Homo sapiens: one gene and its partners. The protein of the gene in region 4 interacts with the protein of the main gene of each other region in a pairwise test. Each region holds a gene or a part of one and is shown on either strand. Other genes may lie near its edges. The genes, in order: MAOB, GABPB1, MNS1 and CHAT.

Region 1 (7,028 bases), on a different chromosome or scaffold from region 4:
AGATTTATAATAGGAAAGCTACATAGACAGCATTGATTATGCAGTAAAAGCAATATTGGATGAATTTGGAAAACTTAACATTTTTCCTCTTTAAGGTAGAGTTTTTAATACTATTTGAATAGTTATTTAAAGTGGAAAATTACAAAAATGAATAAAATAAAAGAGAAAATTACATTTGTCTTTCTCCTTCGAATCCTCATCTGAATGTAGATTCCGAGTGATGCCCCATGGAAGGCTCCCCTTGCAGAAGAGTGGGACAACATGACAATGAAGGAGCTACTGGACAAGCTCTGCTGGACTGAGTAAGTCTTGCCATTAGGCACAGGCATTTACTGTGACCACCTTTTAGGTTTATTTAGCAATACCGTTCAACAAGTATGGGACAAGTAGCTGCTTTGTGTCTAAAACCACACCACCAGCCAGTGGCATGCTGAAAACCATTGGAATTGGCTCCTACCCTGAAGATATCTGTACATACAACTTACTTCTTTGGAGTAGTTTTGTATCACAAAGGTGGTATTACCCTGTGAAGTCCTCAGAACAGACCAGAAGGTACCACTTTCTTTATCTGAAACAGCTTAAAGACCATCAGCTTAAAGCTCTCATTTATTAAGTTGTTGATATAGGACAATTTTTGTATTCTTCACTGGTGGTCAAATGTGGAGATGGTTAGCATGTGCATTTGCCACACCTTGTGTGAAGTAGTGCAATTCTTCAAGGACTTAAAGAGGAACCTCTAAAGCCTTTGTGTAGATAGGTCACAACTACAGGGGAAACATGTGTGACTGGACTGGCTGTTCCCCTTTAGTGAAAAAACAAGTACCTATGAGTTAAGCATTAAATTCTTGTTGGCAGAACTGGGAACTGTAGAGAAATTGTGAAGGCTTGTATAGACAGACCACATGGAGAGGCCACACTGCTCTTGGACAGCAGGGAAAATGGAAAGGATTATGAGGGTTCCCATTCAAGCACGTGGTAAATTTGTGGTAAACAAAATAAGAGAAATGGAAGCCAAATTCAAGGAGACTGCCCTGTCTTGCTAAAGAGCATTAGTTGAGAATATGTTTGGCTCGGGGGTTAATGTCTTCATTTTTAGGCATTCATTCACTGCCAACTAAAAGTAAAAACAAGCTTTTAGAATATCTGAATCTTAAAAATGGAAATAATCAAAAGACATAAAATTCATATATTTTTCATATAAAAATTCAGCTTCTAATAATTTAGCTTTAAGAAAGTGAGGCAAAAGAAGAGAGAGGCACCAGCATGGCACATGTATACATATGTAACTAACCTGCACAATGTGCACATGTACCCTAAAACTTAAAGTATAATAATAAAAAAAAAAAAGAAGAGAGAGGCATACAGGGAGAGAAGGAGAGAGGGAGAGGGAGAAACAGTGAAAGAGGCAGATTCAAAGCATTATTTTTAAAAGGGAGGATCTGAAAGCCCAATAGTAGAAGATCGGCAGAATCAAGTATGGAACATCTAAAAAATTGAGTACTTGAGGGTTTTAAAAAATCGTGTTGTAGAGGAATATTTAATGACTGGAAAAAATAGTAATATTAAACACATAGAAAAGCAGGCTATTGTGGTATGGTATATGATCTCATTTCTAAAAACAACTATTTATATATGCACTGCAAAAGCAATGGACATCCATTGAAGTATTTTTAACGTTTAATATTACCATGCAAACATTTATTTTTAAAATGTTTAAAAACTTTACATCATTAAAAATTATTCTTTAAACATCATATTTCATGGTACCAGAATATTCCATGGGAAATGAATACGTAATGTATTTGTCCATTATCATCCTGTTGAACACATTGGTTACTTTCTGTTTTTTGTTATTATCATTATACAATACTCTATAATAAACATCTTTATGCCTCTCCTGTGTTTTCAACCTTTGAAAGCAACCAGTTCTGGAATAGTAAAATCCTTTTATGTCATGAAATCAATGCGTGTTATTAATTATATTCTTTTAAACATTTACCTAATGCTATCTAACACCTCTATGAGAATGTAGTTTGCAATATAATTTATTTTAATAGTAATAAAATTGTAGTATTTAGTTTTAAATTATATACTTTAGATTTTCAAAATATAATAAGTATGTAATTATCTGCATTTGTTTTATAACTCCTGTTATGAAAAGCTTTTAATAAATTCAGTTAGGTCTTCTCTCCTCAGAGAACTTTTAAGTTTCTTGGTGATAAAATCAATCATATGTTTTTGGGATCACAGGGACCCGACATTTTCTATCGTAGCCCTTGGCCTAGTCCTCCACTTAGTGAATATTCTAAGTTGTCATTTGACAAAATAAAGCATTCTGAGATACTAGGAGTATAAGAACACAAGACAATTTTCCAACTCTTCCCAAGCAAGATACACACAGTATTATTTCCTGGATTTAAATGAAGTAATCCCCAGAATATCCAACCTATTGTTGTTCAAACTAAAGCACAATCATACATTCCAAGACTAATGTTGATTATTCTTTCAGTTATTATCATTTACAAAGTGCACTTCACAAACATGAATTGTATTTTCAATGTGATCACAGCTATGTAAAAACATTTTTTAAAAGACCTATACTTAGAAAAAAATGCATCAAAATGAGACTAGTAATTATCTTCTGGAGGGGCAGAAATATGGAAGACACTCGTTCTCTCATCCTTTTATCTTATAAATTTTCCAAATTTTATATAATGTGTATGTATTTTTCATGTAGAAAAATATTATAACATTTATCTTTTAAAAAGTCAACAGGGCAAAAAATACGGAAATATTGCACTAACTTCCTTGACCTTCCATCCTTCAAATATTGTTCTTATTTCTTTTCTTACTGAAGCTCCTAGAGTAAATTCAAATAAAGGATTAGGAATGGACTGGCCCTTCAGAATTACTTTTAGATCTCCCTTTATTTCAAACCAGAATTATTTCTTTCCCACCAAATTGCCAACAATAACAACTAGAATTCCAGCAATATTTTTGTTAAATATTGGCTCTCCAGCTGGGCCAATGTTAGGTTTCAGTTATTTATTACTCCCTTTACTGTATGCCCCTCAATCCACCTAAAAAATAAGGAAGAAAAGAAATAGGATTTTAGGAAGCAACAAATAAAATACTACTTTTATTTTAAATTGACGTCTGGATATGTGTTTTAGTTAGATATTACAAATTGCCTCTGCAAGGAAGGCATGAGCTAGCAATTTCCATCCCTTCAATTATCCTGAGAAATCTTACAAAACTAACTGTAAGTCGCTTTAATGTATATATGACACCATTTCACAGGCTGTAATGATGGGGACTGTCATAGACGGGCTGTCAGGTTGTTACAGCTGCAAATAATGTCAATAATTGGTATGTGTGTTAGGCATGATTCTACAAACTTCTAGGGTCAAGATACAGTAAAGTAGAGAGATGCCCCTTGGTGAGTAGCTGCACTTCCAAGGCTGTCAGCTGACTAATTAGAAAACATTTTGAGGTATCAAAAGCACGAGTTTTGCGTCAAGTACGATCTGACTTGAAGTTGTGTCGTTATATATTCCTAAACTGTCCGAGACTCCGTTTTCTAGCATGTGAACTGTGGAAAAATAATAGATATTTGATACGGTTGTTGCAACAATTTAACAAGATAATGATTTTAAAGACAATGGAGTGTGGAAAGAGTTCAATAAATGGAAGACAATATCATTTATCCCAACCATTGTCAGCATTACCAGGTGGAAAATGCTGCCTCAGATATAACAAGATTAACAATATGCAAACTTCATGTCAAAGTCAAAAGGGGAATTGGACCTTATTAAAGAAATCCCAGAGTGCACACTACTACTGATGAATTTTATGCTGTGCTAGATATAATGGAGTCCTCGAAATTGCATGAGATAGTTTGCTTTCTGGTGTGCTTCCTGATAGGTGATAACCTCTCACCATTTACCTGCCAATGTCAAGCAAAAGCTTACCCATTTATGCTCTATTAATTGTTTGTCCCCTCATCCATTATTTGAGCTTGTCTTCTGTTAGGCAGTAAAATAACTGAATAGATAACTGTGACTAATTTTGTGTTTGGTACAGCACCTAGCATATCCTTTGCATGTTATGGATGTTTAAAAAATTTTGTTTAACTGATATTTCTCATCAATCATTCATTCGTTCAATCATGCAACAAGTAATTATTGAGTGCTTACAATGTTCCAAGCACTATTTTGTTAAAGGGGACACTATGGTGAGTGAGAAACAGAAGATCCTTGTTCTCATAGGTTGATATTCTAGTGGGGGGAGACAGCAATTAAAAAGAATTAACCAATAATCAAGACAATTTCAGACAGTGAAAAGAGTTATAAAGATACTATACAGTAGCAAAATGATAGAGAATGTCAGGATGCTGGGAATATGGAAGCCAGTGGTCGTTTTCATAGACAAATGTGAATATGTCTTTCTAAGGAAACATTAGAGTAAAAAGAAGAGGGTACAAGATGAGACAGAAAAGGTAGGCATGGGCTGGATCACATAGGGCTCTGGAAGCCATGGTGTAAGATCTGAATCTTATTCTGGTTTTAATAGGATACCACTGGAGACTTTTTAAGCAAGAAAATGACATGATTTGATTTATACTTCAGAGAGAGCATCATGGTAGGGAGGGAGGGAAAAGCCTCTGGCTTTGAGTGTGGTGAACAGATACCAGGTGAGGATGAATGGAGGCAGAGAGGCCAGTCTGAAGGAAGTAATTGCAGTACTCCTGGAAAGAGATGGATTCTAAATTTGTGGTGAAGGTGGAGTGATGTGGTGAGAGATAATGGGACTTCCCAATGAATTGGATGGGGGAAGATTGATGGAAAGAGAGAAATAATGTTTGATTTCTAGAGTGTTGGTTTTTACCACTGAGTAAATGATGGTGCTTTTTACTGAGATGGGGATCACTGGAAGAGCAGCAGGAATGTAAGGAGAAATCATGAAAGCACAGAATCTGGAATAGAAGCTGATTCTGAGTAAGGTGTTTTGTTTACAGGGAAAATAATCTGATATTTCAAAAACCTCCGATGTCACGTTTTGTAATATTAGATTCTAGTGACAATTTTTTGACCTTACCACATTGTTTTAAACTTAACCAAGAAAATGTGTTACTTAAATAATTTTTAGAGAATTAAGAAGCTGCTCTCCTGCGTTTGCCAAGTTTGCTCTTGTTTCTTCCTGTGCAGATCTGCAAAGCAGCTTGCCACTCTCTTTGTGAACCTGTGTGTCACTGCAGAGACCCATGAGGTCTCTGCTCTCTGGTTCCTGTGGTATGTGAAGCAGTGTGGAGGCACAACAAGAATCATCTCGACAACAAATGGAGGACAGGTACCCATCCATTCTTCCACAGTCCCAATGGAAAAACACTGCTACTGAAATGAAAGATCATCATCCTTCAATCATGAACTGCTGAAGTGGGAAGCAGGCTTGTGGCTTTTAGAGCATTACCATGGCAGCTCAAAGTGTTTCTTGTAAGGCAGTCTGTTGTCAGGTACCCACTGTGAGAACCCAGTGTCCAATGTAATTTTAAAGCTAGGCTTGTCTCTCTTTATGCACTGTGGCCATTTTCCATACGCTCAATTATTATTTGGTAAGTTTGTAGGAGACCATCTGAATTAAGCTTAGCTTGAGCACTTCTTGGAAAGCTTATAAAGGAAATTCAGTAATGCATTTTCAATTTAAAACACACACTATTCATGGAATTCATTTATCTATTCATTCATTCAATGCCCATTTCTTGAGCCCCGGCACTGTATAAGGCACTGTGCTAGACACAGTAGGAACATATTGGAGTTCTTAAATAATCTGCTTGGTTGTCATGTTCCATTCTTCTCTCTCCCCCTCCTCCTCTTCTTTCTTTCTCTTCTCCTCCTCCCCCTCCTCTTTCTCCTCCTCCTTTTCTCTTTCTCCCTCTCCTTCTCCTTCTCTGACCTTAACTGAAAATTGAGGAGGAGGCAGCCAGGTCAACTGTGTGCATAGCCAGGTAGAACATTTGGAAGTTTTAGCAAGGCTGAGGGCAGGTGGGTACAGTGAGGTGAAATGAGTTCGGTGGCTACAGAAGCAGCAGGCATCTGACCCAGGATAAGATGGGCAGCCTGCAACAGGGAGTAGGCTGGCCTGGGGGAAGGGGACATGGTGGGAGGCAGGGAAGTTCTGCGCTTGAGCCACAAAGCAAGGGGAAGCAGGCTTAGGTCTGCTCAGGCAAGCTAGGGAAGAGCTTTAGGTACAGCTTCACCAGTTCCAGCTCTAAGCAAAAGACTGCAGATAGGACAGAGAGCAGGGATGGTGACCAGAAAGGTGGGATACAGGGGTCATTCTGAAGATGTCCAGCTAAGGTTGGAGTCTGGGAATCTACAAGAGCATAGCTTGTAAAGTAACTTAGAAATCCTGTAACTTTGTCCAAAGACAGCAATTCCTACTTAGAAAACCATGGTGAAAGCCACTATTCACTGCAGCAAAATGAAATGTTAGACATCTCAGAGTAGACATATGTGAGGACAACTAAGAATTTAGCAATTTATGCCCATTCCTGCGTTTCTCTTTCACCTCCTTTTCTCTTTCCAGGAGAGGAAATTTGTGGGCGGATCTGGTCAAGTGAGTGAGCGGATAATGGACCTCCTTGGAGACCGAGTGAAGCTGGAGAGGCCTGTGATCTACATTGACCAGACAAGAGAAAATGTCCTTGTGGAGACCCTAAACCATGAGATGTATGAGGTAACTGTGATATTGTGAAATATATATTTGATCTTCATCCCAGTTTCCTGGCATACAACTTTAAAAATTCTTAGAATCTCCAGAGTGATGTCCTTTGATGCCAATGATTGATGGCTGGCAGCCCCTAGGTAGCTTCAGGATGGGGCTGGTCACAGGAAAGACCATGGAAAGACTAGAGGGTTGGGACTTTCAGCCCCACCCCCAGCCTCCAGGGAGGGGATGGGGCAAGGGGCTGAAGGTTGAATTGATCACCAGAGGCCAATGATTTAATCAATTGTGCCTACATAAGGAAG
Region 2 (7,028 bases), on a different chromosome or scaffold from region 4:
AACAGGTAACAGGTAAAGTGCACGTCATGAGGAATTCAGAAATTCAGAAATTACATGAAGTTTTGCATCATGAATTTATTTTTGAGGGTGCACGAGGCAGTTACCCAGTCTCTGTTTGCAAGTAGCCTGAGTTCAGATGAACTCACTGATGGCCTCCATCTCTTCTGACTTTGCAAACGTTGAAAAACAAACCCACACAAAATCTTGAAGTTGAGAGCAACTTAGTTTCCTTAGTGTCATCCCTCTGCTCCCCTCTCCTCCCCAACAACTAGTATGGTTTCCAGCTAGTAATCACAATGTTTCTATAGCTCTGATGTGCCTACATTGGGATAGCTACAATTAGTATTATAGTTTTCTGAAGATGTTTGTTCCATCATGCTTTCTAGAAGGTAAATCTAGCACTAGATGAGATCAGTATTAGGGCCTGTGTTTTTTCTCAGTGTTGACATCACAGTGCTCTATACAAAGAAGATGCTTTGGTGCAATCAGCTGTCAGTTCAGTTGGTGGGCTAGTGCACCTTTCTGTCTCCCTCCCTCCCTCCCTCCCTCCCTCCCTCTTTCCTCTCTCCTTCTCCCTCTGTCCCTCTCCCTCTCTCTCCTTCCCTCCCTGTTTTCCCCTTTGCACCTCTTCTTTCTTTGACAGGGTCTTGCTTTCTCTGTTACCCAGGCTTAGTGCAGTGGTGCGATTATACTTCACTGCAAGCTCCACCTTTCAGGCTCGAGCGATCCTGCCTCTGCCTCAGCCTCCTGAGTAGTTGGGACTACAGGTACCTGCCAACATGTCTGGCTAATTTTTTAATTTTTTGTAGAGACGAGATCTCACTGTGTTGCCCAGGCTGGTCTCAAACTTCTGGACTCAAGTGATCCTCCCACCTTGGCCTCCCAAGTGTTGGGATTATAGGCGTCAGCCAACACACCCATCTGTGAATAATTCTGAAGTTGGTAGAACAGCTTATTGACAGAGCAAGGTGTTAGCCCCACTTTACTGTGTACTAGTTATATTATATTTGGGGTATTGTGTTGGCTTTTTGGGTAGCATACTATCATAAGTGAGACCTTGTATTCATTCTCAGACTTTATCAGAATCATCTGGAGAGCTAATAAAAAGCCACACAGAGGCCCAAACTTAAGTAGGGTAGGAACGGACCTTAATTTTTCTCATTTCCAAGGTGGTAGACACCTAAGTGTCAAAATCACTTATCTGTAGAGCATAAACGAGGACCTTGATCATGAGAGAAATGGAAATGAGAAAAAGTTGAAAAAATGGGATGTTTGACCTAAAGAAGAGGAGCTTCTTTTAAGAAGTAACAGCCACTTTTAAGGATTTGGAGTTCTGTCATGCAGAAGGATCAGATTTGACTTGACCAGAAGGAACTAGGGTCAGTGGGTGGAAGTTTAAAAGAAGCAGATTTCAATTCTCTTTCAAGATAAATTTCCTCAAAATTGTGAAAATAGAATGAGTTGTTTTGGGTGGTAGGCTGTTCCTGTTCACTGACAAATTGGGGATTCTAGAGTAGAGGAATCGTACTGAAGGAGAATTTGAGCTAGGTGTCTTCAAGTTACCTATAAACTTTGAGGTTTTATTAAATATGCCGAGGTTTACAGGTGGAAGAACAAAAAGCTAATTGAGTGAAACAAACTGGTTAACTTGATAATAGTTTTTGCCTTCCTGGATAAAGAGAAATGAGTATTAAGTGAGAAGGCTATTTAATGAAGGGCTTTAAACCACACTGTAATTTGGTAGATTCAGCAGCTTTAAAAATTGGCATACCTTCTGACATGGAAATTCCCTTTAAAGAATTTTTTTTTTGATGTAGTAAAGATGTGTGTGAATATTTAATTGTGAGCATACTAGATGCAGTATTGTTGATTATAAAAGCTGTGTATTAATGCCTTTAAGCCCCACGGTAATCATATGAAGTGGGTAGTACTATTTCTGCTTTTCAGAAGAAAAAACAGGCATAGAGAAATGAGGTTGCTTGCTCAAGGTACCTGAGTTAGTTAAGTGTTAGGGCCAGGACTTGAATCCAACCAGTGTGACTCTAGAGCCAGTACTATTGATCATTATATGGTAAAATTGTAAACAACCTAAATGTTTCACAGTGATTGTTAGGGTCCATCCCTACAGTGGGGTACTGCCTTCTCAGCCATGAAAATGATGATAGAATAATATAAAGACATGAAAGGATGTCTTGGTATATGTAAGTGAGAAAAAATAAATTTAAAAACATGATTCCATTTTGGTAAAAAAACCCAAAAATATATTATGTCTGGAAGGATATGTGCCAAATTGTTAAATGGTTATTTCTGAGTGTAGTTTTACAGGTGATTGTTTTCTTTTTGCTTATCCAAATTTTCTAACTTCTACAATGAATATAAATTATCTATCATGTTGTAATTAAGATATTAAGATGTAACTTTTCAATAAAAAATTAAATGTGTTAGCATAAGCTGAGAAATTTGGGTTTTATACTCTGCATTTTAAGCAAGTTTGTAGAAATTGTACATGAGAATTTGTAAATGCATGTAGTGTTTTGTAATTTTTTGTTTGATTCCTTATTCTAGAAGTAATATCAATTGAGTAGAGAAACATATCACTCCTACCACCCTACCATAATCAATTATTTTGTTGTGTGTTGTTACTCTTATGTGTAATATTTTAAATATTCATCCCAGTGTCATCCCAGTTAGTCATACTCTAGCTGTGTGATTTTAGGCAGTTTACTTAATCTCTCCGTGGCTCAGTTTCCTTCTTTGTAAAATGTGGATTATTATAATACTTAGCTCATGATGATTGGAAAGATTAAATGTTATTTCATATAAAGTGAACAGAACAGTACCTGAAACATAACAGTTAATAGCTCAATAAATGTTAGCAATTATAGGATCACAGTCCACCATTCAAACTCTTAGGGTCTAATAGGTTATGGAATTAGGAATTTTTTTTTTATATGGGCAAGGTAGTAATGTGTAGCCTTCCAATAGAGTCCAGTGCAATATCCCCCTTCAAAAGTGTTACTGTTTCTGCAACAAAATGTATGAATGTTCGCACTAAATAGGATAAAGACTGTAAATAGCTTCATATCAGTTTGGGTAAGGTTTACCACAAGATGAGTTATTTTGGGTTTCAGAAGTTTTTTGGATTTTTGGAATTGAAGATAAGGAACCTATAAAATATTAATTTTGAGTCCTATTTTATAATATTAAAACATCTTTTCATGGTATTTTATAGTTTTATAGTGCATGGTAAATTAAAGTCAATTAAAATGAAATAATGGAAAATGTCCACCTCCATCTCCTTTGATTTAAAAAATACTCAGCATACTGATACTATGATTTAAAAAAAATTTTTTTTTTGAGATGGAGTCTCACTCTGTCGCCAAGCTGGAATGCAGTGGCACGATCTTAGCTCAGTGCAATCTGCGCCTCCTGGGTTCAAGCGATTCTTCTGCCTCAGCCTCCCGAGTAGCTGGGACTACAGGTGCGCGCCACGACGCCCAGCTAATTTTTGCATTTTTAGTAGAAACGTGGTTTCACCATGTTGGTCAGGATGGTCTTGATCTCTTGACCTTGTGATCTGCCTGCCTCGGCCTCCCAAAGTGCAGCAATTACAGGTGTGAGCCACTGTGCCCAGCCAAAAAGTTTCAAAGTTTAAAAAAAAAAAAATGGCCGGGCTCAGTGTCTCATGCCTGTAATCCCAGCACTTTGGGAGGCCGAGGCGGGCGGATCACTTGAGGTCAAGAATTCGAGACCAGCCTGGCCAACATGGTGAAACGCCGTCCCTACTAAAAATACAAAAATTAGCCAGACGTGGTGTGTGCTTGTGTCTCGGCTACTCGGGAGGCCGAGGTGGGAGTATTCCTTTAGTCTGGGAGGCGGAGGTTGTAGTGAGCGGAGATTGTGCCACTGTACTGCAGCCTGGGTGACAGAGCAAGATTCTGTCTCCAAAAAAAATTTAAAAAACTACTCCTGTTGGTCCTGACTGTGATTCTATTTTAAAGAATATCTTAAACCCACTAATGCTGTGATTATATTACATAATGTAGAATCTTTTTCTGAAAGAGGCTTGAGCATTCCTATAACCCAATTAGCTTGTTTATGTCTCATTACACTTGAGGGATAAGATACTTTTACTATGGTGGTTTACTATAGTAGTGATTCTTTTTTTTTTTTTCCAGATGGAGTTTCACTCTGTCACCCAGGCTGGAGTGCAGTGGTGTGATCTAGGCTCACTGTAACCTCTGCCTCCCGGGTTCAAGTGATTCTCCCAAGTAGCTGCAGTTACAGGTGCCCGCCACCATGCCCAGCTAATTTTTGTATTTTTAGTAGAGACGGGGTTTAGCCATGTTGGCTAGGCTGGTCTCCAACTTCTGACTTCAAGTGATCTGCCCACCTTGGCCTCCCAAAGTGCTGAGATTACAGGTATAAGCCACTGCGCCCAGCCTATAGTAGTGATTCTTTAAAGGAGGTGGGTAGATGACACTGTGATACCTGTCTTTAATGCACCCATTCTGTGCATGTAGAGACTGAGGTGGTTGTAAAATTACAGTACTGAACTTTGGAATTAGGTCAATTCTTCTCATTATGATAACGGTTTTGGATGTATAGCCCCTTCTGACTCCTGGAATCCTTTATTTCCACAGCACTTCCCATGTATCCAAACAGAGGAAAAAATAATTAGTAGTATAGTGCTTGCTTCAGCAGCACATATACTAAAATTGGAACGATGCAGAGAAGATTTTCATGGTCCCTGCACAAGGATGACACATAAATTTATGATGTGTTCCATATTTATTATTATTTTTAATAATAAAAAATAAAAAAAATTTGTATGGTGTGTAAGTGAATGATCTAAAAAATTTCCTTTGTGCCCTAAATGACTTGTGTGAACTCTGTGATCTTTGCCAATGTGATTATTCTTCCTGTGTTCCTTTACTTGTTCCATTCATAGTGACCCTCAGTTTCTTGCCCTAAGTGCTATGGTCTAAAAGCTTGTGTCTCCCCATAATTCATGTTGAAATCTTAACCTCCAAGATGATGGCATTAGGAGATGGGGCCTTTGGGAGGTGATTAGCTCAGGTGGGTAGAGCCCTCAGGAGTGGGATTAGTGCTCTTAAAAAAGAGACTCCAGACCGGGTGCAGTGGGTCATGCTTGTAATCCCAGCACTTTGGGAGGCTGAGGTGGGTGGATCAGGAGGTCAGGAGTACAAGACCAGTTTGGCCAAGATGGTGAAACCCCATCTCTACTAAAAATACAAAAATTAGCCGGGCACAGTGGCAGGTGCCTGTAATCCCAGCTACTCAGGAGGTGGAGGCAGGAGAATCGCTTGAACCTGGGGGGGGCGGAGGTTGCAGTGAGCCGAGATGGCGCCACTGCACTCCAGCCTGGGCGACAGAGTGAGACTCTGTCTCAAAAAAAAAAAAAAAGACTCCAGACAGCTTGTTAGCTCTTTCTTCCACATGAGGTTACAGCAAAAAGACAGATGTCTAGAAGCTGGCCCTTACCAGATACTGAATCTGCCAGTGCCTTATTTTGGACTTCTCAGCCTCCTGGGCTGGGTGAGGTGGTTCACTACCAGCCTTGGCACCATAGTGAGACTCCCATCTCTACAAAAAAAAAAAAAAAAAAACTTTCTGTTGTTTGTAAGCTACCCAGTTTATGGTATTTTGTTACAGCAACCCAAACAGTCTGAGACGTTTAGCTTAACTCCTGTATGCACTAGATACAGTCTGCACTTTGACATCAATCACTTATTTTATATTTTACTGGACTCCTGTTGTCAGATTTTTCCACCATCGATTTCTTCTGTTTTCCCTCACAGGTCACAGCATATTTGTGGAGGAAGGTGAGTAATTATGAAGATTTCTTGGCCACTATAAATTTACGCTGAACAATTCCAAATAGGCCCCTCCTACTTCTTGGCAATCATCTTATTAATTGCATTTTTCTGTTGTCTCATATTCCTTCTTCCTCTTTAACTCTTAATAGATGCCATTTACTTCTATATAAGTGAAAAAGGAAAACAGGGTACAAGCTTGCACATTTTTTTTTCATTGTAACCATGACAAATCACTGTTCTTTCATCTTATTTTGTAAATTGAACGGAAGAAGAATCCTGCTGCCACAGTTAACTTTACCTCTCTGGTCACTTTGATTGTTATTTGCAATGTTTTTTCTTCCCTACCTTAAAATATGTACAGACTTCTCACCGGGCGTGGTGGCTCATGCCTGTAAACCCAGCACTTTGGGAGGCCAGGGCGGGTGGATCACGAGGTCAGGAGATCGAGACGATCCTGGCTAACACAGTGAAACCCCGTCTCTACTAAAAATAAAAAAAATTAGCTGGGCGTGGTGGCGAGCGCCTGTAGTTCCAGCTACTCGGGAGGCTGAGGCAGGAGAATGGCGTGTACCCGGGAGGCGGAGCTTGCAGTGAGCCGAGATCGCACCACTGCACTCCAGACTAGGCGACAGAGCGAGACTCCATCTAAAAAAAAAACAAAAAAAAATGTACAGACATCTGTACTTTGGGAGGAAAAAAAATCAATTTTGATGAACTGCTGCTACTGTTCTTTCTAGCTATCTGCTGCATTTCTCTTCATTTCAAAAATTTTAAGAATTGAATTACAATTGCTGCCGTGAGTTTTTACTTTTTTTTCGAAGACAGGGTCTCACTGTGTTGCCCAGGCTGGAGTACAATTGCAGCTCACTGCAGCCTTGACCTCCCCAGGCTCAGGTGATCCTCCTACCTCAGTTTCCCGAGTAGCTGGGACTACACGCATGTGTCACCATGCCTGGCTAATTTTTGTATTTTCCTGGTAGAGACAAGGTCTCACTGTGTTGGCCAGGCTAGTCAACTCCTGAGTTCTTTTACTACTACTTTCCTAACTTACGCAGTTTTGGAATAGCATAATTCAGATTGTCGCTTCAGAGGACATCTTTTTTGTCAATAATATTGGCTTCATCCTGACTCTTTTCAGCTAGTATATATGTGTTACTATTTCCACTGAGGCTTTTTAATGTTCTCTCC
Region 3 (7,404 bases), on a different chromosome or scaffold from region 4:
AGTGCTAGAATTATATGGGTGAGCAATTGTGCTGGCCCAAGGTGAAGTTCTTTACAGAGGAATTTCAGCTAATTAAATGTGAAAGGAATAAAAGAATCAGAAAATCAGTTTTTGTAACCACTAATGAAAGAAAAAATTCTTTTGTGAAACCACAGATGAAAGTTTGATGGGAACCTTTACAGTGGAGAAACCAGACTGTCTTCCTAAACCCACTGATCAATACTGGCATCACTAAAAGTGGAACAACCAGACCTCATGTGTTCCCTGTTGTGACACAATGACAAAGACAGCATCACCTATGGAGTATTCTTGCCAAAAAAGGTGGACCGCAATCTAATTGTGTCTTTATGGCTAGGTTCTATTTAGAGGAAATATAACAGATAGGGAAATAAATTAAAGGAACATGAGGAAGCAAACACGTATATTCAGAATGTGGGCTACTGGATAAAACAACTGGCTTAGTTTAGCAAGCTAAAAACATGAAGTCAAAAAAGAAAAACACGGTGAAGGAGGGGCTGTTTTCAATTAAGAGGGACTTAAACAGACATAACCACCAAATACACCGTATGAATGTTCCTTGGATCTTGGTTAAAACAAACCAACTGTAAAAGCAGATTTTTGACACAATCACAGAAATGTGTTTATGGAATGGGTGAGATAATAGTATTATGGTACTCCATGTAAGAAAACATCCATATTTTGTTAGATGTACACTTAACTATGTAGGAAAGAGTTGGTGTGATACCTGGGATATTCTTTCAAATTAAAGAGAAAATAATAAGAATAGGAAAAATATCCAACCCCTAAGATGTGCTTTCTCAGAGTTAAAAAAAAAAATCATATCTAAGCTTTTGAATTTGGAACACAGAAGGGTGGATATCATTTTTTAAATTTGCTTTTGTTATTCTCCACAAAATCCTCCAAAATGTTTAACATACAGCAGCTACTCAAAAACTACTGACATATCAGAATACCTTTTATATATTTATGAGAATTCACTTCTATCATGTCTCAATTCTTATTAGTTTCCCTTTTCTACCACCTTAATCCCTTAAAATGTTGAGATATACCTAAGGGTTCATTTTCTACCACTTAATAATGTATACATTAATTTCAGTAAATTTTTTAAAGGCACCCCTAAATTTTTGTTTTTAGAAATTTATGAAAGGCAACACAATTGTACTTACATGAACAAAACTGGTAGTAATTACAGAGTTCATATTTATGTTAAAAAAAAATCTGAGTGCTTATTCTGTACCAGGCACTATTCCAAGAGTCTTGCATGTATTAACTCATTATTAAAACAATCCTAAGTAGGAGGTACTATTCTTATTCCCCATTTTATAGAAAAAGCATAAAAAATAAAAGCAGGCTGGGCGCGGTGGCTCACCCCTATAATCCCAGCACTTTGGGAGGCCGAGGCGGGCGGATCACGAGGTTAGGAGTTCGAGATCAGCCTGGTCAATATGGTGAAACCCCGTCTCTACTAAAAATTAAAAAATTAGCCAGGCGTGGTGTTGCGCGCCTATAGTCCCAGCTATTCAGGAGGCTGAGGCAGAAGAATCGCTTGAACCCCGGAGGCAGAGGTTGCAGTGAGCCAAGATCGTGCCACTGCACTGCAACCTGGGCGACAGAGCAAGACTCCATCCAAAAAAAAAAAAAAGTAAAAGCAACTTACTCAAGGGTCCGTAGCTAAGGTATAGCAGTAGTAGGATTCAAAGACAGGCCGGCTCCAGAAACCCAGGTCTTTACGATTACACCGAGCTGAGGCACAATCAGGCATCACTTACCTGCTGCTGTTGTTTATCTACTCATTTCCAGCATTAACAGCTGACTTTCATCGTTTCCAAGGTGCAAAATGAAAAAAAAAGTAACAATGAATAGTAAAACTTACCTTTTGAATGGCCTCTTCCATATCCAACTCAAATTGTTCATTTTGTAATAATCTGAGAAATTGCTTGCGCTGAACACGGTTATCATTTTCATTCTGCACCATTTGATTCCTGATTTGACTGTTGACGTTTTTTAGAGCTTGGACATGTAATTTTTTGCAGTAGTTTTCATCTACTAATTTCTGATGCCTTTCACTACAGCTCAAATTTCTCCTTTTGGAACCCTACGATGGAAGAAAAAAAAAGATGCATATTTTGATATTCCAAAATCTAATTTTAAAAAATGTATTGATATAAACCTTAGTAAGAAAGGATACGAAGAGCCTGGCTTCCTTCCTAAATTCAAAGGAGTATACCGAATAAAAAGTAAACGTGGTAAATATGTTCACATATCGATTAAATAGGTACTGTTATTATTACCTATTTTATAGATGAAACATGAAAAGTAACTTTACCCAAGGTTCTGCAGCTAATAAATAGCTGTGCTAGGATTAATCGCACCCTACAGACCCAGATCTTTACTACCACCAGGGAATTTCTCCTCCCCTCATTCCACCCACCACCACCACCACCACGACTACCACCACAGGGCCATAAAGTGCTGTTCAGAAGCTGGTCAGATTTTCCTAACATAAATGTAATAGGTCAATTCGCCGCTATTTATCAATTCGCTTTCTCCTACACTTTTATATCTACTTATTTCTTCAGAGGTTCTATTGGGCAGATTTAAAGATGTATTTAATACACTATGCGAAAAGTGCCAAAAAAGCTGGAAACCACCGCGAGCGTCCCTTCTAATAGCACCTGAAGCCTCCGAAAGCAAATACAAGTTCCCCAATTAATGACCAGATTAAGCACTTAAAATCCTTTTTTAGAAGCAGATGAGCGCCAAACTAGAATTAAATCAACAATAAACAAGTAGTTTCAAGTCCCCCAACTGGCTCACCATCTTGGCTGACGAAAAATACCCCCTCTCGTGGGACCGCGGCCACCACCTCCCGCCGCAAACGCAGCAGCCAGCAGCCCCAAGGAGCGCACCTGGCTGCGCGCGCTCGGGTGTTTACGCGGCGTCTTGGCAACGGTGGAGCTGCGCGCCCTCCGCTCGACCAAAAGTGACCCACGCAGAACGTGGCCTCCCATTGGACGCGATAAGATACAATCGGCATTGAGCTTCTTAGGACCAGGGCAGGAGGGCTACTTCTATAGGTCTAAACTAGAAAAGCGGGAAGTTCAGACTGTGGCCTGACCCAAGCACTTTGCAGTGGGCTAGGGAAGCTCGATTTCCCTCCAGCGGCCGAACTGTGGTTTCAGTGGGTTTGGGAGCCAAGTTCGGGACTGTGGAGACTGCGCACAGAGAAATACGCAAACTACTGCCTAATGCATGGAGCCGAAGGAAATTTCCACGCATGGAGCATCCCGCACACTAAGTGCCTAGTCAGCCAGGTCTCTGCTAGGGACGATGACTGGTTTAATCCTCAGCAATGGGAGTCCAGGTCGCTGTCCCCTTTGCTGGGTTGTGAGGCACTGAGGGTAGCACGAGCTTCCAGCAGCCTTCACTTCACCCCCCCGCCCCCCCCCCCCCCCCGCAGAAGCTGCTGGTAAATTTTGGGACTAAAATCTATGAGCCACATGAATCTTACTCTGCTATGTGGTCCAGGTACCAAGAGAGAGCACGTTACATGATGGCAGGATGTTGATCTGGTTCATTCCATAGGCAGGTTAGACACTAAAGTCCATTTTAAATGGGAAGTTTAAGAATGATAATGGATCAGAGAAATTAGATATACTGATTTTAGAAATGATACATTCAGAGAAATCTTGTCAACACTAAAATATTTGTATAAGGTGATTAGTGGTATAACTTTGTGTTATTCTAATTTGGAGTCCGTCTTCTGTAGCAATATGTCTGCTTAAAGATTAATAACAAATGGGACTTGCAGTTTCAGTGCTGACGTGTAAAAGCTTGGAAGTTGTCACCCCATCCTTACAACCAGATCAAAACAACTAAAAATCAGCGACTTCTCTTGGTTCCATCATACAACTGAGGTCGCTCGTCTCTCTGTCCTTTGGTCATTTATCCCGTGGTTGCATATCTATGTTGTCTCTAGTACTCCACTCATTGCCATCACTGTTTGAGAGAAATGGAGAGAAGGCGTAAACCTGCCCTCTGGGTGTTCTGTGTAAATTGATCTGGAATGGAGCAAAGCAGGCAGCCTGCTATAAATTTCTCTTCTTGGCATATCCATCTCCGCAAAGGGTTGGGCACTGTATAGAAGAGACAGGAGACAGGCATGGGTTCAGGGTTGAACAGGGTATAACACATTCAATAGAGTGTGGGGTTTAATTTGTTAATTCCTAATAGTGAAATAGTGACATTGCAAAGTATTTCAGCAAACATGTATGTTTTTTACTGTTTACTTCTCGAAATGAAGACTTTCGTCTCTAAAGGGAACTTCAGTTATAATTCCTCATTTCCAGTATACCCTTGGATATGGTAGAAGGATTCATATAATTTCATAGGTAATCTGAGAAAAAGATTTTTGGCCAGAATATTGACCTAAATCCAAGACAAATTTAATCAATTGTAACAATTAGCTGATTTTAACCTTTAAAAAATTATCCTAACAATTACTACATTTTTAATAGACTTTGCTCCTTTTTCGAAGCAGTTTTAGGTTTACAGAAAAATTGACAGAATACAGAGAATTCCCCGTCTCACCTCTCCTCCCCACCGCACCCATACAATTTCCCCTATTTTTAGCATTACATATTAGTGTAGTACATTTGTTACACTTGACGAACCAATATTAATATGATTAAGTTCGTAATTGACATTAGGGTTCACTCTTTGTTTTGTACAGGTCTATGAGGATTTGTTTTGTTTTTTTTCTGAGATGAAGTCTGGCTATGTTGCCCAGTCTGTAGTGCAGTGACATGATCTCGGCTCACTGCAACCTCTACCTCCCAGGTTCAAGCGATTCTCCTGCCTCAGCCTCCCAAGTAGCTGAGACTACAAGCAAATTTTTGTATTTTTAGTGGAGACGGAGTTTCACCAGTTTGGCCAGGCTGGTCTTGAACTCCTGACCTCAAGTCATACACCCACCTTGGCCTCCCAAAGTGCTGGGAGTATAGGCATGAGCCACTGCTCCCAGGTGGGTTTTGAGAAATACATAATGTCATGTATCTGGCCAGGAGTGGTGGCTTGCACCTGTAATCCCAGTTACTTGGGAGACTGAGGCAAGAAGGTTGCTTGAGGTCAGAAAATTGAGACATATTGTCATATATCTATTATTACAGTATCATACAGAATAGTTTCACTGCCTAAAAAGTCTCTGTGTTCTACCTATTCATTTCTCCCTCACTCCTTCCTCCCAAACCCCTGGGAACCACTAATCTTTCTATTGTTTCTATAGATTTGCCTTTTCCAGAATGTCGTATCTTTGGAATCATACAGTATGTAGCCTTTTCAGACCGGCATCTTTCCCTTAGCAAAACTCATTTAAAGGTTCCTGCAAATCTTTATGTGACTTGATAGCTCATTTATTTTTATCACTAAATAACATTCCATTGCATGTCATTATTAAAAAACAATTATTACATTTAAATATTATTTCTAGTAATAAATTATTACTATCATAAATGATACTTCATTGTTAAGGGAGGACTTATGCCTTCCCAACATTACAAGGAAGTCTTCTCGTTCATTTCCCTCTAGAAAACAACTTTTTACCTACAAGTCTAGACTAAAATGTCTAGAGTACTGAGGGGAAGGAGCTTTTCCTTATAATGGATGATGAATTATACTGATTAATGTCCCCCAGTAGTTACAATATAACAGGGTTGAACTTAACAGAGTTGCTGATCTGAAATAAAGCATGTTAATAGATGTGCACTGTTAAGTGTAGCTATACAGTAAAAATTATTTACGAAATGGTATTGCTTTATAAAATAAAGCAATTAGAACAAAACAATTTTTCTTTCGTTCAGAAAAATGCCCAAATCTAATCTAATTTGCTGCAGCTGGACACCACCTGCAGATGACTGTTGAAATACTCTGAACATTACACACTTATCTTTTAAATATTGATAATGCCATTCTTCATTTTCTCGACATGAAATCCCAGAGGGAACAATTATGCTAATAAACCTTAATGATTCTTGCAAATAAGTGATCAAACCAAATTGCTGCTGTTGATTTATATTAATGGATGCCTTTAGGATGAGATTTGCTAGTATGGTGCTGCCTCTTGAATCTCAATTCATCTTATTTAGCTGAAGAGGGTACATAGTTTGTTAAATAGATGAAGTGTTTAAAATATAATGTGCTTGTGCAGTTTCTGCACTTCATAATGTTCAAGTATTACCATCTTGCCTTGTGGCAAATCTGCATTTAATGGTTTCATTGTATATAACTTCCTTTAGTACTTTTTCTGTCTGTCATATGCAGTTAGGAAGTGACTACTTTCTGGTTGATGCAGAATAGGCTAACTTCCATATATTGAATTTGATTGTTTCATTAAGACAAGAAAATCTGTTTCTGGATATTTTAGCCACCATAATCTGGGAATCATATGGACTGTGTGATGATGTGATCAAGTGCTAAATAATTGTTAGGGGTAAAGAGACATGAAGAAATGGTTGGTGAGCTCACTGAAACCCAGGCTTAGTGGATGTCTTTCGTTCCTCGTCTCTCACTTTCACTTTTGCTCTTGCATCTTCACTATGTCTACAGGAATAGGAGATTGCTGACTTCATGAATTCTAGCATAACACTGAGAAAGAACTACAGAATTGTAATATATTGATTTCTAGGGTTGAGAACACTACACAGAAAGAATGCTTATTCATTGTAGATATGAATAAAAATTTACCTGGGTAATTTTATTGAAAAGCCACTATTTGTAAATGAGTAGTAAAATAGAAGACTGGCATCTACATATTATGTATATAGGAATGGAATACAGAATTTGTGATGTCAAATAACTTGTGATGTCATTAGGAATTTGTTATATGATGCACAGAGACTGTAATTTGGCTAGCGGTGAAGTAAAGATGACCATATTAAATTCATCATGAAGAGTGGAGGAATCCCCTTCTGAATTATATAAGCTCTTATTGGTAAAAAGAAAAGTATACATATATACCTATATTTATATAGAGATATATACATGTGTAAACTATGTTTATATGGATTTTTTTCATTTCTTAACTTTAAAAAGGTACCAAATTTGATGACATTTGATATATTTATGGCAATTTTTCTAGTGAAAACTTAACCAGACCAAAAATTTTAAACGACTAAAGGCACGATTTTATTTATTGCAAAATTTTCTAATTTAGCAAAAAAACAAAAACAAAACACCACAAAAATGGGTGATCTAAACATGCAGTGTTTAGGGAATGGCTAATTAAATTGTGGCATATCAGCTATGTACCTAGAGAAGTGTGTCTGGAGGGCCAGAGGGGCCAGCCCAGAAGAGGCAAACTGTGGAAAACCTGAGCAGCAGCATCTT
Region 4 (7,028 bases):
TGAAATTAATGTCAGGGTGGTTTTCTTAAAAATCTCTGTCTTAAAACAAAACAGATAATGGAAAAACCCAAAGTAACCATCTCTCTTCACCTACTGGAGCATGTAGGAGGGGAGGAGAGGGGAAAAGATGCAGAAAAAATGCAAATGGCAGGACCCCGGGAAGGGGCCAGGTCCTCTGCAAACCCACCGGCACCAGGCACCATCTGCTTGGGGCTGTGCAGTTTACTCATCTTGGACTGGCCCTGATGCCGCCTGCTAAGCAGAGAGTGGCAGCAACTCCAGGGCAGTCACAGATAAATTTTTTTTTCCTTTCAGAATAGCTGGACACAATTTTCTGAGCTCAACAGAAGGCTGCCCCTGGGCACGAAAGCAGAAATGTGTTTGTGGGCCCAAGTCACTATATTTTAAATGGACTTGGGCTCTGTGGTGTGTGTGGGAGGAGTGGGTGCTTGTAGGACTGTACGGCTCAGTGGAGACACTGGGAATGCCACGATAAGAATGCTCTGAATCTCAAAACACAGCCTCCTCTCCCCCAAAAAAGAAAAGAGGTAATGACCTGGAGTTAGCCTCTTCCTTCCTAACTCATTAGGTACGTTGCATGTAATAGAGTGACTCATCCTTTCCTTGGGCAGAAGCATCACCTGGACATACTAGGTCCTGCTAGGGAAGGAGACATGAACACTAAGCTTCCAAGGACCACAGAAGGAGTCCTTAGTGTGGTTCCCCAGTGCATCCAGGCTGCCTCTGAGCCAGGCAGGTCCCATTTCCCAGTGTGCAGGCCCAAAGCCACCTTGAAAATGATGATTCCCATGCATGAAGAGGGGACCCTTTCCTCCTAACACTCCGGCTCTGTGTGATGTCTCTGTATGGTCTGTGAGTTGGACCCTGAGGACAGGGAGCTGTGGAAAGCTGGGGTAAGGGACGGGAGTGGGGATCTGCAGGGTCTGGCTGTTCTAGAGGCTGGGTTTGGGAGGTGAAACCTAGTGGCAGGAGTCAAGGTTGGTGTCCCTGGCTGGGCCTCGTGGCTTTTTCCTTTGTTGCCAATGGCTTGCTCTCAGTAGGCGGCAGCAGACTGCAGAGGTCTCTCATGTCAATGAGGCTTTCTTCCACAGCTTTTGCAAACTTGCTAGAAGAAGTCTCTTTGCAGCTGTGAAAGCTAGAGATGCAGAAAAGGATGGTCTCTGGCTGGGGGTTGTAGCAGGCACCATACCCATTTGGGACCACAGGACCATAGCAGCAGAACATCTCCGTGGTTGTGGGCACCTGGAGGAGAGGACAGGTCAGGAGCTGCTTGTTCTGGAATGCAGCCCGCCAGCCTCGACTGGGCTTGGCTTCTCTGTTTTCCACCTGGGGGTTTGACTGAATTAACCAAATCAAGTGATTGCTTTAGCATGGATGGACACAGCCAGAGTCATAAAAACAGACCCATCTAACTGCATGATATCAGAGGATGAGGGGCCCCAAGCCCACTCCCTGGTGTGCAATCTGCTCTACTTGTGGAGTTGGAAGCTCCCGGAGTGACCTGGTGCTAGGTCTTGGGCTGAGTCTCCACTTCACCTGGGGGCCATTTGAGGCACGGAGGCAATCAGGTAATTTACTAAATGGTCCCCTGGTGGCACCCCATAGTTAGATGCTTTCCGGAGGGAGGAATTTATGAACTGGAGGAAATCTGGCCCATCCTCTGTGTCGATTTCCCCCAGATCCTTAATTACTGTCAGTATTGCCTGGCTTCTCTGATTTCTCCCTGCAGCCTGGCCATGCACAATTACCCAGAGTTGGGTGTTTCAAAGATTGCCATCAGTTTTACTTATGCACCTAGTATGTTTTGAATCAGAGTGCTGAGATTTTGTAATCCAGATCACAAACCAAGAAAGTATGTTTCTGAAAGCATTCAAGCCATAAATGCTGCTTTCCAGTTGGAAAACAACAAAACTCCCACACCCCAGATTAATTTTATTAGCTGGTCCTTGGGAAAAAAAATAGAAAGGATTCTTGGGCAGGTGCAGGGCCTGGTTTGTTTTAAACCTACAGGTTTCTGGTGCTGTGTGCTGAGGCCTTTGGAAGTGACACTGGCTGTTTTAATGGGGCAGAACAAACCATTAGTCTTGCTAATAGAGTCACCACATTGTCAGATAAATTTGCCGTGCAATAGCCGAAGGCCATAAAGCCATTCCAAAGCACTTTTTGCCCATGGATGATTTCCTGAGAAATTTATGGTGCTGTGTTCTGTCCTCGTTTATTCACGTCTGCATGCTCACTGCCATAATGACAACATCCCATTACTGAGTGGGCTTCTGTCCTCAAACACAGCTTATCAACTCCAGTACTGCCCATCCAGCCTTTCGCAGATGAGGTGGCATTTTAGTAAATTGATGGCTGTGGGGCATTTCCCCTCCTAAACCACGACCTCTCTCTAATGGATTGCATTCTGTCTTTGTGGCAGTGGCTCTCATACAGGACACGCTGAGGCACTGGTTAGATGTTGGGCTGGCCACGAATGTTCTGCTGTTGGTTGCGTGGCCCTTTATAATAATATCTGTGACCTATTTAGAGGGCCCTGTCCATGCCAGGCCCTGGGCTGGGCTTTCTCCCTACATAATTGTATCTGGCCAAGCCAAGACTTCACTGCAGACCTGCTGGGCATCAGAGCCCGTGGAAACCGCGGCAATAGATTGAAAGGTAGTAAGGTGTAATGGTTAGGGCACCAGAATGGGTATGTTCCTGTACTGTCTCCACCTCGGCTAAGTAGGGTCTGCTGATTACTCCCATTTAGGAGATGGGAAACCTTCTTCTTCCTTTTTTCTTTTTTTGAGACAGGGTCTCACTCTGTCACCTGGGCTGGAATGCAGTGGTGCAATCAGGGCTCACTGCAATCTCCACCTCCCCAGCTCAAGCAATCCTCTTATTTCAGCCTCTTTAGTAGCTGGGACTTCAGGCACGCACCACCATGCCCAGCTAATTTTTAAAAATAGGGAGATGAGGTCTCCCCATGTTGCCCAGGCTGGTCTCAAACTCCTGGGCTGGAGCAATCCTCCTGCCTCAGCCTCCCAAGGTGTTGGGATTATAGTTGTAAGCCACCAAGCCTGGTCAGTAAACCATCTTCTAATGAACATTCAGATCATTTTGCTGAAGATCACATAGTTCAGAAAAAGCAGAGGCAGGATTTGCCTGATTCCAGCTAGTGGGCTTGTTGTCACTGCTCTTTAGAAAGCTTACTGACTACACTACTCTTGGGCGATAGCTGCACGGGGCCGTACCTGGCTAGTGGAGAGGACAAACCGGTTGCTCATCAGGTAGGTTTCATCCATGAACATCTCGGGCAGCTCCTTGCACATGGCCCGGGCCAGCTCCCGCAGTGCCAGCAGGTGGTTGTCAATGGCCATCCCTGTTATGGCCTGTGTAGTTGGGGACAAAGAACAGGAGATGAGAAGTGGGCCTCCTGCACCTCCTTGTTCCCTGCTCTGTAGTCTACAGGACTGCTGGTGACTCCAGCAGCCACGGCTCATGCTTACCCAGTGCCTGCTGCCAACAATGTGTATGAGTGGCTGCTCAGGACTGACCGCTCTACCATGCGGCCTCTGCTCCCGGGCCCTTGCGCATTTCCACATGCACTGAATGAGTCCAGAGCAGGTTGGGTTCTAGCTTGAGACATCTGAGCTAAAGGTTAGTGAGTCTGAGCATCCCCTACACAACTATATCCGCCTGGTTCTCTAAGTGGAAAGAATGGGGCTGGCCTGGTCTTCTCAACTACCAACTGCTTGGGCAGGGAGAGAGTTTGGGAAGAAGGCTGTGTGCAGAGCTTGGAGACTACCGGATCCTGTGCAAGCATTGTGAAGGGCGTCCCAGGCTGTCCTGAACAGACTCCCACCACAACCAGCGCTGTCTCCTCCAGTAGGAGCCCAGGGAACAAGAGATAGAGGATAGAGGGTGTGAGATCTGTTACTGAATCTTGGCTGCTATTTCATGGCTCAGGATCAATTCATTTAAACTGGATCCATAATCTAAGAAATCGTTTTGAGACAGGAACTAGACCCCTTAGCAGGCTCAACTGACATTTTCAAGGGGAAAGAGCCTGTTGAATAATAAAAGTTCTTTTTCTTTTTATCACAAGATATTTAAACTTTTATCAAAGGATAGAAATATAGAGAAAGCTCCAGGATGTCAATGTAGGAGGGGTTCACGGAGGGTGAGGTGTCTGGAAGTGGGGCCGGGTACTCATTCTACAGCTCCCCCACTTGAGGCTGGGTATGTAGTATGCACACTGGTTTTTTGGACTGCATGTTTATTTGGAGCAATTCTAGGGGCTGATGGAGACTCAGGGGGCCACCCTGACCCATAGTAATCACTTTTGGGTCAACATCAGGGTAACTGTGAGTAACTCTTGGGGTTTCACAGTTCTGTAGGATGGCCAGTTAGCTGTCAAAGCCCTGCACAGGAGGAAACTTCCCATTCACAATGAACTTGGTATAGGTTTACAAGGCACGTTTAGGGATTTGACAGCTGTTCTCTTTCAGTTGCGAATGAATGCATAAAGATGACTCAGGCTCTGGTCTCTCTGAACGCACCTAATTAGAGGCTGAAAAGACAAACATTACACAACCACAGCTCACTTTAGACGTGCCCTACCTGTTAGGACCGAAGGAAAGAACGGTGAGCCCATCTATGAAGGAGACTACTCTTTTAATTTCTCTGGTTTCCTCTATTTAATTCCTGATTTGTGTTGGTCCATAGAAGCAGCTTCCCTGTGAACAGTCAACTCACCCCTCTTTTCACCACCTTGGAATAACTGTAGCAAGAGAGACTGAGTTCACAGGTTGTTTGGCTCAGAGCCATGAGTAATAACGAGTAAAATGACTTATAATTCAGTCTTTCATTCATTCATTTAGGGAATCTTAATTGAGTGCCTACTATATGCCTGGTGCCGCGGGTCCTGTAGCCACAACAGAGAACAAGACAGTTGTAGACTCAGTCCTTGTGGAGCTTATGGTGTAGTGGGGGACAGATTTCATCAACCATGCAAAAAAACATGATCATAAACTCAAGTGTGAGGAAGGGAAAACATAGAAGTGGGAGAGTAAGTGATGGGGGCTCTGGACCACCTTGCCATTGGAACTTTATTTCTCCACGACCACTGGCAAATATGCTTACCAGTTATTAGGTTTCCTTGCTTCTTTCCCCCTTTCCTTACCCTCCATGTCCAACCACACACCAGATTCACATCCTAAGCATCTTTGTATCTCTCCTTTCCCCAAACCCATCTCTTTGATTTGGTTGTTCTCATCAACTTAAAATTATTAACACAACCCTATGGCAATGCTTTGGAGGGTGTTTTCCTAGACATTTTAATAAATTTAAAGTTGTTATTGTCATATATTTATATCGTTTAGAAATCCAAATAAACCAAAAGCCTAGGTCATTTTGCCAGCACGGATTCCTACCCCACAAAGGTAATTCCTTACAGTCTTTTAGCTATTTCTTTTGGGTATATACTTTCTTTCCTCCAAACATATGCTTAGGTTACCACTACTGAATTTCTCAGTTTTACCTATAATCTTCTTGTTATAGACAGTGAAATTTCAGCTCTTTTTTTTTTTTTCTGAGATGGAGTCTCACTCTGTCGTCTAGGCTGGAGTGCAGTGGCGCGATCTCAGCTCACTGCAACCTCTGCCTCCTGGGTTCATGCCATTCTCCTGCCTCAGCTTTCTGAGTAGCTGGGACTACGGGCACCCCGCCACCACACCTGGCTAATTGTTTTGTATTTTTAATAGAGATGGGGTTTCACCGTGTCAGCCAGGATGGTCTCGATCTCCTGACCTTGTGATCCACCTGCCTCAGCCTCCCAAAGTGCTGGGATTACAGGCGTGAGCCACTGCACCCGGCCAATTTCAGCTCTTTTATGACCCTGCTCCCCCAGCACACTTCTACTCTCCCATCTTCCCAATAAGATTATGTTTTAACTCTTTGTAGTTTGATCAAGATACAGCATAATCATGTATACAGAACGATATACATAAGTATAATTAAGCAAGTATTCACAGCTGGGTCATGTAGTGTACTATGATTAGATTTCCTTTCTTATTGAATTTTTTGTTTTCCCTAGAATTGACAATGTATAAATTACTTTTTTACTTCCTTAGCTTTCCATGTATCTATTTTATTTATTTATTTATTTACTTTTGAGATGGAGTTTTGCTCTTTCACCCAGGCTGGAGTGAAGTGGCGTGATCTCGGCTGACTGCAACTTCCACCCCCTGGGTTCATGTGATTCTCCTGCCTCAGCCTCCTTAGTAGCTGGGATTACAGGTATGTGCCACCACACCTGGCTATTTTTTGTATTTTTAGTAGAGATGGGGTTTTGCCATGTTGGCCAGGCTGGTCTTGAATTCCTGACCTCAGGTGATCCACCCACCTCGGCCTCCCAAGGTGCTAGGATTACAGGCATGAGCCACTGTGCCAGGCCCCATGTATCTGTTTCTAACTGATTCCTAAACATGCAGCAAGAATTTCATTTGTCCTCTCACTTCTTGCTTCTTTATGGACTGATTGCTCTCTAGGTGTACTCAACAACTGTTGATTTGTGATCTCCTTTTACTGTCATCCTGCGGGCACCCCTCTATCTTTTTCTTGTGTTAAATCTTCTGTTTTTTTTCAGCCTATGATTTCCTCTTTTATGTTTTATTTTCTCACTTTAGAAGTCTACATTCTCCAGTAGCTTTATGAGAAATGGTGCTTAATAAGTAAAATGTTTGAGACTTTCTCTGTCTAAAAATATCTTTGATGCATCTTCAAACTTGATGACAGTTTAGCTGGGTATGAAATGTGTGTTGAAGGTCACTTTCTCTCAGAATTTGAAGACACTACTCTTTTTATCTTCCACCTTCCAATGATGCTGTTCAGAAATTAATTACATCTTTTTTATGGATCTTTGTATTTGATTTTTTTATCCTCTGATAGATTTTAGAATCTTCTCTTCATGTTTAGTGTTGTGAAATTTCCTTTGCTATGAGTATTTTCCATCTATTAAGCAA

Evidence for each region.
Region 1: the proteins of CHAT (region 4) and MAOB interact in binary tests that used the Homo sapiens proteins (3 or more experiments, as listed by UniProt).
Region 2: the proteins of CHAT (region 4) and GABPB1 interact in binary tests that used the Homo sapiens proteins (3 or more experiments, as listed by UniProt).
Region 3: the proteins of CHAT (region 4) and MNS1 interact in binary tests that used the Homo sapiens proteins (3 or more experiments, as listed by UniProt).

Annotation. Positions count from the first base shown.
Region 1 is NC_000023.11:43,795,446-43,802,473, reverse strand, and holds part of MAOB (amine oxidase [flavin-containing] B), read left to right. Parts: intron 1-210; coding exon 211-302; intron 303-5,207; coding exon 5,208-5,349; intron 5,350-6,585; coding exon 6,586-6,735; intron 6,736-7,028.
Region 2 is NC_000015.10:50,345,190-50,352,217, reverse strand, and holds part of GABPB1 (GA-binding protein subunit beta-1 isoform beta 2), read left to right. Parts: exon of another isoform or gene 1-3,282; intron 3,283-5,822; exon of another isoform or gene 5,823-5,846; intron 5,847-7,028.
Region 3 is NC_000015.10:56,462,132-56,469,535, forward strand, and holds the start of MNS1 (meiosis-specific nuclear structural protein 1), read right to left. Parts: upstream 3,007-7,404; 5' UTR 2,842-3,006; coding exon 2,839-2,841; intron 2,117-2,838; coding exon 1,895-2,116; intron 1-1,894. UniProt on the Homo sapiens protein: Microtubule inner protein (MIP) part of the dynein-decorated doublet microtubules (DMTs) in cilia axoneme, which is required for motile cilia beating.
Region 4 is NC_000010.11:49,659,012-49,666,039, reverse strand, and holds part of CHAT (choline O-acetyltransferase), read right to left. Parts: intron 3,396-7,028; coding exon 3,258-3,395; intron 1,264-3,257; coding exon 994-1,263; 3' UTR 1-993. UniProt on the Homo sapiens protein: Catalyzes the reversible synthesis of acetylcholine (ACh) from acetyl CoA and choline at cholinergic synapses.